Linked DNA regions of Homo sapiens. The protein of the gene in region 1 purifies or fractionates together with the protein of each later gene. This does not show direct contact. Each region holds a gene or a part of one and is shown on either strand. Other genes may lie near its edges.

Region 1 (4,038 bases):
CTTGAGGACAGGTGTTCAAGACTAGGAGAGATCCCGTCTCTACAAATACTACAAAAATTAGCCAGGTGTAGCAGTGTGCACCTGTAGTCCCAGCTACTCGGAAAGCTGAGGCTGGAGGATCGCTTGAGCCCAAGAGTTCCAGGCTATAATTGCACCACTGCACTCAAGTCTGGGCAACAAAGAGAGATCCTGTCTCTAATGGAAAAGAAGGCCAGCATGGTAGCTCATGCCTGTAATCCCAGCACTTTGGGAGGCCGAGGCAGGAGGATTGCTAGAGACCAGGGGGTCAAGACCAGCCTGGGAAACATAGTGGGACCCCATCTCTACAAAAAATAAAATTAGCCAAGCGTGGTGTTGCGCACCTATAGTCCCGGCTACTTGGGAGGCTGAGGTGGGGAAGAATCACTTGAGGCCTGGGAGGTTGAGGCTACAGTGAGCCACGATAACGCCACTGCACTCCAGCCTGAGTGACACAATGAGACCTTGTCTCGGAAAACAACAGCCCAAAAAAGCCCCAAACTTTACAAATCTGGAACTTAATGAAGTGTAAAATAAACAAATATGTACTCATGGCCTCCACAGCACAGCAGAGGTTAAAAAATAACTATAGAATTCTATAAAGAAACCTCTACTTTAAGAAGATTCTAAGCCAATTCTATGACAAGACCAAAGTTATTTTACAAAGGTCTCATCAAGGAAACTGTCTTCAAGGCAGTCATGATGTTGCCCTCCTGTAATCAATCCCAACTACTCAGGAGGCTGAGACAGGAGGACTGCTTGAGCTCAAGAGTTTGCACCAGTTTGGGCTACATAGCGGACCCGTGGACCCCTGTCCCCACCCCGTCTCTAAAAAAAAAAGAAAGCTGTTTTCGGCAAATAAGGACTCTTGATACAATATAGTTTACAAAGCAAATAGCTAAAACTGATTAAGTCTTAAATCTGCATTACAACTCTAAATATTAGAGCCCTCCTCCCCGCCTCAACTTGTCACTTGAAACTACGAAGAGACCCAAGTGTCCCCTATTACAAATCCAAAATATTCATTTATAATTTTCAGTTTTCTTTGAACACAGAAGCCTCCTAACAGTAGACTCTCAAAGTAGAAATAGTGAATATGAAATCTAGGAAACCATATTACCCAAGTATTCCACAAGGAACAACGTCCTGTTTAGCACAGCATTTCAGACACACAAATCTTATCCCTTAAGCCACAACAGACACAAGAAAATGCAAAACAAAATGCACTCATAAAAGGGAACAAAAGGAACACTGACATAGTAGCTACTGCTCATCTATGTATGGCACTCCTAGGCAGTTCACCTGTGTTATTTATTTCATTTGGCTGAAATGCATTACTGACCCAAGAGACTAGTGGTATGCCCATTTTACACATGGAAAAAGAAACAGCATTATCAATACTGTATCAGGCACTGTTCAGTGCCTAGCATAAGTTACCTCAATTAATCCTCACATTACTATTCTGAGTTGGTATCTCCACTTTAAAGACAGGAAAACAGGGCCAGAAATGTTAACTGGTGGTACCCCAAATCCACTGTCCCAAGCTGTCACAGCTATCCTTACCAGGCTGTGTTTATAAAGCCCATTCAAGTCACATCATTCTTTCAAACCATTTCAAGGATTCCACAATCAAAAAATCAACTCTCAATTACAGAAAGACTTAATTCTCCAGATTTTCATCAAAATTTTCTTATTTCTATTTTATTTGCCTTTTGACCATTTCAGTGTACTGTAATTCTAGTATACGTGTTCTGGTAACTATAGGATTATATTAATAGCAATCAACTTTGGGAGGCTGAGGCGGGCAGTTCACCTGAGGTCAGGAGTTTGAGACCAGCCTGACCAACATGGAGAAACCCCATCTCTACTAAAAATACAAAATTAGCCAGGTATGGTGGCACATGCCTATAATCCCAGCTACTCGGAAGGCTGAGGAAGGAAAATCACTTGAGCCCAGGAGGTGGAGGTTGCAGTGAGCTGAGATGGTGCCACTGCACTCCAGCCTGGGTAACAACAGTGACACTCACTCTCAAAAAAATAAAAATAAAAAAATCAAGAATCAAAGAATAGGCCAGACATGGTGGCTCATGCCTGTAATCACAACACTTTGGGAGGCCCAGACAGGCGGATAACTTGAGATCAGGAGTTCAAGATCAGCCTGGCCAAGCCTGGCCAACATGGCGAAACCCCATCTCTAATAAAAATACAAAAATTAAGACCGGGTGGAGTGGTTCATGCCTGTAATCCCAGCACTTTGGGAAGCCGAGGTGGGCGGATCACCTGAGGTCGGGAATTCGAGACCAGCCTGACCAACATGAAGAAACCCCATCTCTACTAAAAATACAAAAATTAGCCGGGCATGGTGGCGGGCACCTATAATCCCAGCTGCTTGAGAGGCTGAGGCACGAGAATTGCTTGAACCCCTCCCAGCAGAGGTTGCAGTGAGCCGAGATTGAACCACTGTACGCTAGCCTGGGCGACAGAGCGGGACTCTGTCTCAAAAGAACAAATAAATACTGACCTTCATTCAGAACCATAAAGTCTCCAATACTCATTATTAAGAGGTTAATAACAAGAGTTATTAAGAGGTTATTAAGAGGTTAATAAGGAACATATTGTTAATAACAAGGAGCATTAAGAGGTTAATAACAAGGAGTGAATCTGAAGTCTTACAGCATAAAGTTTGCCTAGCTGCCAGAGACCTTATTTCTATTTCTTCTTTTTTTAGTAGAAAAGTTTTACAAAATTTGTAGGAAAATACAATAATTTTTGTATTTTTTGTAGAGATGAGGTCTAGCTATGTTGCCCAGGCTGGTCTCAAGCTCCTGAGCTCAAGCAATCTGCCCGCCTCAGTCTTCCAAAGTGCTGGGATTACAGGCATGCACCACCATGCCCAGCCCCTCTCTCTCATATGTATACGTGTGTGTGTGTGTGTCTGCGTGTGTGTGTGTGTGTGTGTGTGTGTGTGTGTGTGTATATATATATTTTTTTTTTTTTGAGATGGAGTCTCCCACTCTCACCCAGGCTGGAGTGCAGTGGTGCCATCTCAGCTCACTGCAAGCTCCGCCTCCCGGGTTCACGCCATTCTCCTGCCTCAGCCTCCCAAGTAGCTGCGACTACAGGTGCCTGCCACCATGCCCAGCTAATTTTTTGTATTTTTAGTAGAGACGGGGTTTCACCGTGTTAGCCAGGATGGTCTCGATCTCCTGACCTTGTGATCTGCCTGCCTCGGCCTCCCTACATCTTTTTAAGGGAGAAAAATAGGAGAAAGGCCTTTCATGCAATTGACAGATACTCTCAGTATCTTTTTTTTTTTTTTTTTGGGCGGGGGCCGGGGGCGGGGGCGGGGGAGGGAATGGAGTTTTGCTCTTGTAGCCCAGGCTGGAGTGCAGTGGCTTGATCTTGGCTCACTGCAACCTCTGTCTCCCTAGTTCAAGCGATTCTCCTGCCTCAGCCTCCTAAGTAGCTGGGATTACAGGCATGCGCCACCACACCTGGCTAATTGTGTATTTTTGGCAGAGACGGGGTTTCTCAGATGATCCGCCCACCCTGGCCTCCCAAAGTGCTGGGATTACAGGTATGAGCCACCACGCCGGGCCAACTTTCTTCACACTAGAACAAACTGAGAGACCTATGAGTATCTTTGAAATGTTCATACCTGAAAGTATTATTCTAACTAGGCCATTAATGACAGATTTACAAATTTATCTGTGCACAACATAAGATACCTAGAAATTGGTCCACCTAAGAAAGCCATTCATATATTATAGGTATAAAGCAAAGGCAGGAACTTGTCAATTCTTATCCTCTTCATGTGATACTTTTTCAGCACACATTTTTTGAAAACGCTGTGCCAGGCACAGTGGCTCACACCTGTAATTGCAGAACTTTGGGAGGCTGAGGTGGGTGAATCACCTGAGGTCAGGAGTTCAAGACCAGCTTGACCAACCTGGAGAAACCTCCGTCTCTACTAAAAATACAAAAAATTAGCTGGGGGTCATGGCATATGCCTGTAATCCC
Region 2 (3,500 bases), on another chromosome or scaffold:
AAACATTAGACTTTCAAACCAAATTTAGATATAGTGTTTATAAGAACTCGTGGTGTATCTCTTCAGAACCTGGCATCTTGAAACCAAGATCTGGTAAACAGAAACATCAGTAAGGGGGCCTTTGATAGGGGAATACTGAATTGCAAGCCTAGTCAGTGACATAAAGCTTTTCTCATCCATTTCTTACCCACAGAAAGCCCTATGTCCTCCAACTCTTTGTATCTGTCACTTAGCTTGACCACCCTCCTGCTTTCTTTCTACTAGAAGAGTTATCCGTCCACAAAGAGTGCTAAAATGTCACTGTTGTAATCAAACAACACAGAAACAAATAAAATGCTAATGTGTCACTTTTACTGTCATCAACAAATGCTGATAAATTATTGGATATGATTGAAATTTCTGGATACAATAAGCTGAAAATGGGCTGTAAATTCTAATACTGAGACAAGTTAAGAAAATATCTTTGATAATATTCTAAATACAAATATGAACTGCTTAAGTCCTCATCTTGAATCCTTTATATTTAGCATAGCACAAGCATATAACCATGGATTGACTAGTAAACTGTAGTACCAACAGTTTGTAACTATTTAGTGGCTGCAACAGCTGATATTTCATGGTATTCAATAGTAAAACTAATGACAAAATCTATCAATAATCTAGTATAGGACATTTGGAAACCATTATATTTCTCCTAGATAAAAGAAATAAATAAATGAATTAAAACATATATGAAAATTCGATATCTGAATGTTATCTATAAACATATGGAAAATATGGAACCATTGCTGAATAGAATACTGCGTTAACAGAATAATATTTTGCTAAGGCTGAAAAATACTGAATACCTTTTGTTCCCATTATTTATGCATTTAAGGACTGTTCCCTTTATTACATGTATGTGGGTCAAGTCAGAGTTATCTTAAGACTTTCCCTTATCTGAACTTTCATACCATGTTACCCAGCCATTGTTTATTAAATATCACTTTCTACTTTATAGTTATTTTCGAAGCTCTTATTTTCCCTACCAGATTCTTATTTTTTTGAGGACAACGTATATCTATCTTGATTAAGTTTGGTAGATTTCACTAAGTCTACTGTGGTATTTTTTCACAATATGTATTCACTTATAAATCAACTTTATATGATAGAATAATATTTCAAGTCAGCAACGTAATGCTTATTTCATAGAACTAAATGTCCCCATAAATCTAGAATCTTCTTAGCTCTCTAAAACAAGTTCATTTTTAGTTAATAGCTTCTAAACTTTTAAAAGTGAAAACGTAGGAAAAAATCCAGTGTCAAATACAAATTTTTGGAAAACTACTTTGGAGAAAGACATCTCTTCATTTTGTGAATTTAGCTAAAGCAGGACTGGAATGGAGTTGACATCAGCATGGACATCATCACTGGTATTTAGATTTCATATTTACCACAATTCTTCTTAATAGTATGATATTATTTAACATTCAGGTGATTTGAATAAATTGGCATTGTCTTGGGGAAAGTTATATGCTCATGCATGCGTTACATACAAATTGTATGTTCACACTTCACAGGAGTATGTATTTTGCATACCTTTATCAACTATTATTCACCTCTTTTGGTATATAAAACATACATCTCTCAGTTTCCTAAAAGAATGTCAAAAGAGATGATGGTTTTTCTTTTGGAGCATATGAGCATGATATTATTTCAGAAACATCTTCACCTTTTTGGAATAACTGGTCTCTGTGGAAAAGCAATTCTCTACTCTGTCCAATATGGCTACATTTCGTTTTGAGATTAATATTTCCTGAACTGTTTTAACAAAAGATAATCATAGTAACCTAGAGAACATAATCAAAAACAGTAGAAAAAGAACCAAATGTGTAAGACTTAATTCTCCTAACACAAATATTTCAAGATGTGTGTTACACATATTTTTACAGATTTCACAGGCACATATGATGAGATGCCTCTCTAAAAACATGAACGATTATCTGAAAGAGATGTTCTGGATCTGTTATGAAAAAAACTGGTAATATGTAGAAAACTATAACCATGTATTTACTATTTTTTTCCTCAAGGATGTATCTGTAATGCTTATATAAACGTTTATTTTTTATAATATGAAAAACACTACGTAAAAACCGATTTCTCTACCTCAAATTTAAAAATAAAAAATATGTCTAGAGACAGTTAATGCCATATGCCAATAGCTCTTCTTGAATCCTCTGCCTTGCAATCAATAATTCTCCAACCATTAGTGAATATGCTCCATGACTCATCAGAAACAATATACAAAGTTAATGGGGATCATTCTTCCCCTCACCCTCCACACACGCACTGACACTAATGGAAGCTATGCCTCATCTAGTGGAAGACAGACTCAAGATGGCACCAAGCTGAGGCAACTCTTCTTGAGGCTCTATATACAAACTAGCTAACCTCCCCACGAAGAATCCACAACATCCATTTTACATTTTTTGGCATCCTTCGAGAAAATAATAGTAAGCATACTTTATATGGCTAGAAAAGAACCACATTTTTTTCAGCTTAACACTCACTGTGAATGGCAAAATGTACTTCAGTTATGAAAATATCTGAAAGGAATGTTTCCAGGACCTATGCCATTGTGCTTTGTTTACCAGTCAGATGCCTTCTCAAGAATGTGTTCAAATTATAAAGACAGTGTCTCCATGTATAGAAATTCTTCAGAGCCCATAATGTTACGTTAGAAACACATTTTCACCTTTGCTAATATTCAAAACAATACCCTCCTATCTGCAGGTAAAAATCTTTCATTCTTATGAATGCAGCAATCTTTTATTAACATTTGCTCAGGACTTTGGATATGGGTTTTTTTTTTTAACTTTCTAAAGAAAGTTCTAGCAAAAGAAAACACATATTAAGTATTTGAAGATAATTGCTATTTACTAAAATCTCTATTTTAAAATAATTTTAGTGACTCGTTTATGTTTGGTAACTTCAGGACAATGATAACTACAGTGTCTCTAAAATGTTCCTAAGTAACAATCATACTCTATTTTGGCCTTTGAGAGGTGTTAAGACTCATTCTCTAATTATAAGTTTTTCTCTATTATTACTACCTCACCATCAAATCTCTAAACTAAATAGCAGCTTTGAGGAAATAAAAATAGATGTTAGGTGGTGTGTTTTCTCAAATTTTGGTTACAATGGATAAGAAAGACGAGGTATTTCTATGTATAATAAAATAAGCCAATTTTATTGTTTTGACCAGCAAAATCTTTAAGCTTTCTCCCAGAATATTGTTTTCCTGCTTTATCCTAGAACAACACTGTCCAAAATAAATACGATGTTAGCCACATTTGTTATATTTTCTAGACACCATGAAAGAGAGAGAGAGAGAGAGAGAGAGAGAGAGAAAAGAAACAGGTGAAGTTAATCTAGTAAGATCTTCTATTAGAACCAATATATCAAAAATTATCATTAAAACATATCATAAATATAAAAATATTAATCAGATGTTTTACTTT

Evidence for each region.
Region 2: the proteins of CELF1 (region 1) and MBNL1 purify together in Homo sapiens (co-immunoprecipitation; one study listed by IntAct). This does not show direct contact.

Annotation. Positions count from the first base shown.
Region 1 is NC_000011.10:47,542,914-47,546,951, forward strand, and holds part of CELF1 (CUGBP Elav-like family member 1), read right to left. Parts: intron 1-4,038. UniProt on the Homo sapiens protein: RNA-binding protein implicated in the regulation of several post-transcriptional events. Involved in pre-mRNA alternative splicing, mRNA translation and stability.
Region 2 is NC_000003.12:152,271,929-152,275,428, reverse strand, and holds part of MBNL1 (muscleblind-like protein 1), read right to left. Parts: intron 1-3,500. UniProt on the Homo sapiens protein: Mediates pre-mRNA alternative splicing regulation. Acts either as activator or repressor of splicing on specific pre-mRNA targets. Inhibits cardiac troponin-T (TNNT2) pre-mRNA exon inclusion but induces insulin receptor (IR) pre-mRNA exon inclusion in muscle.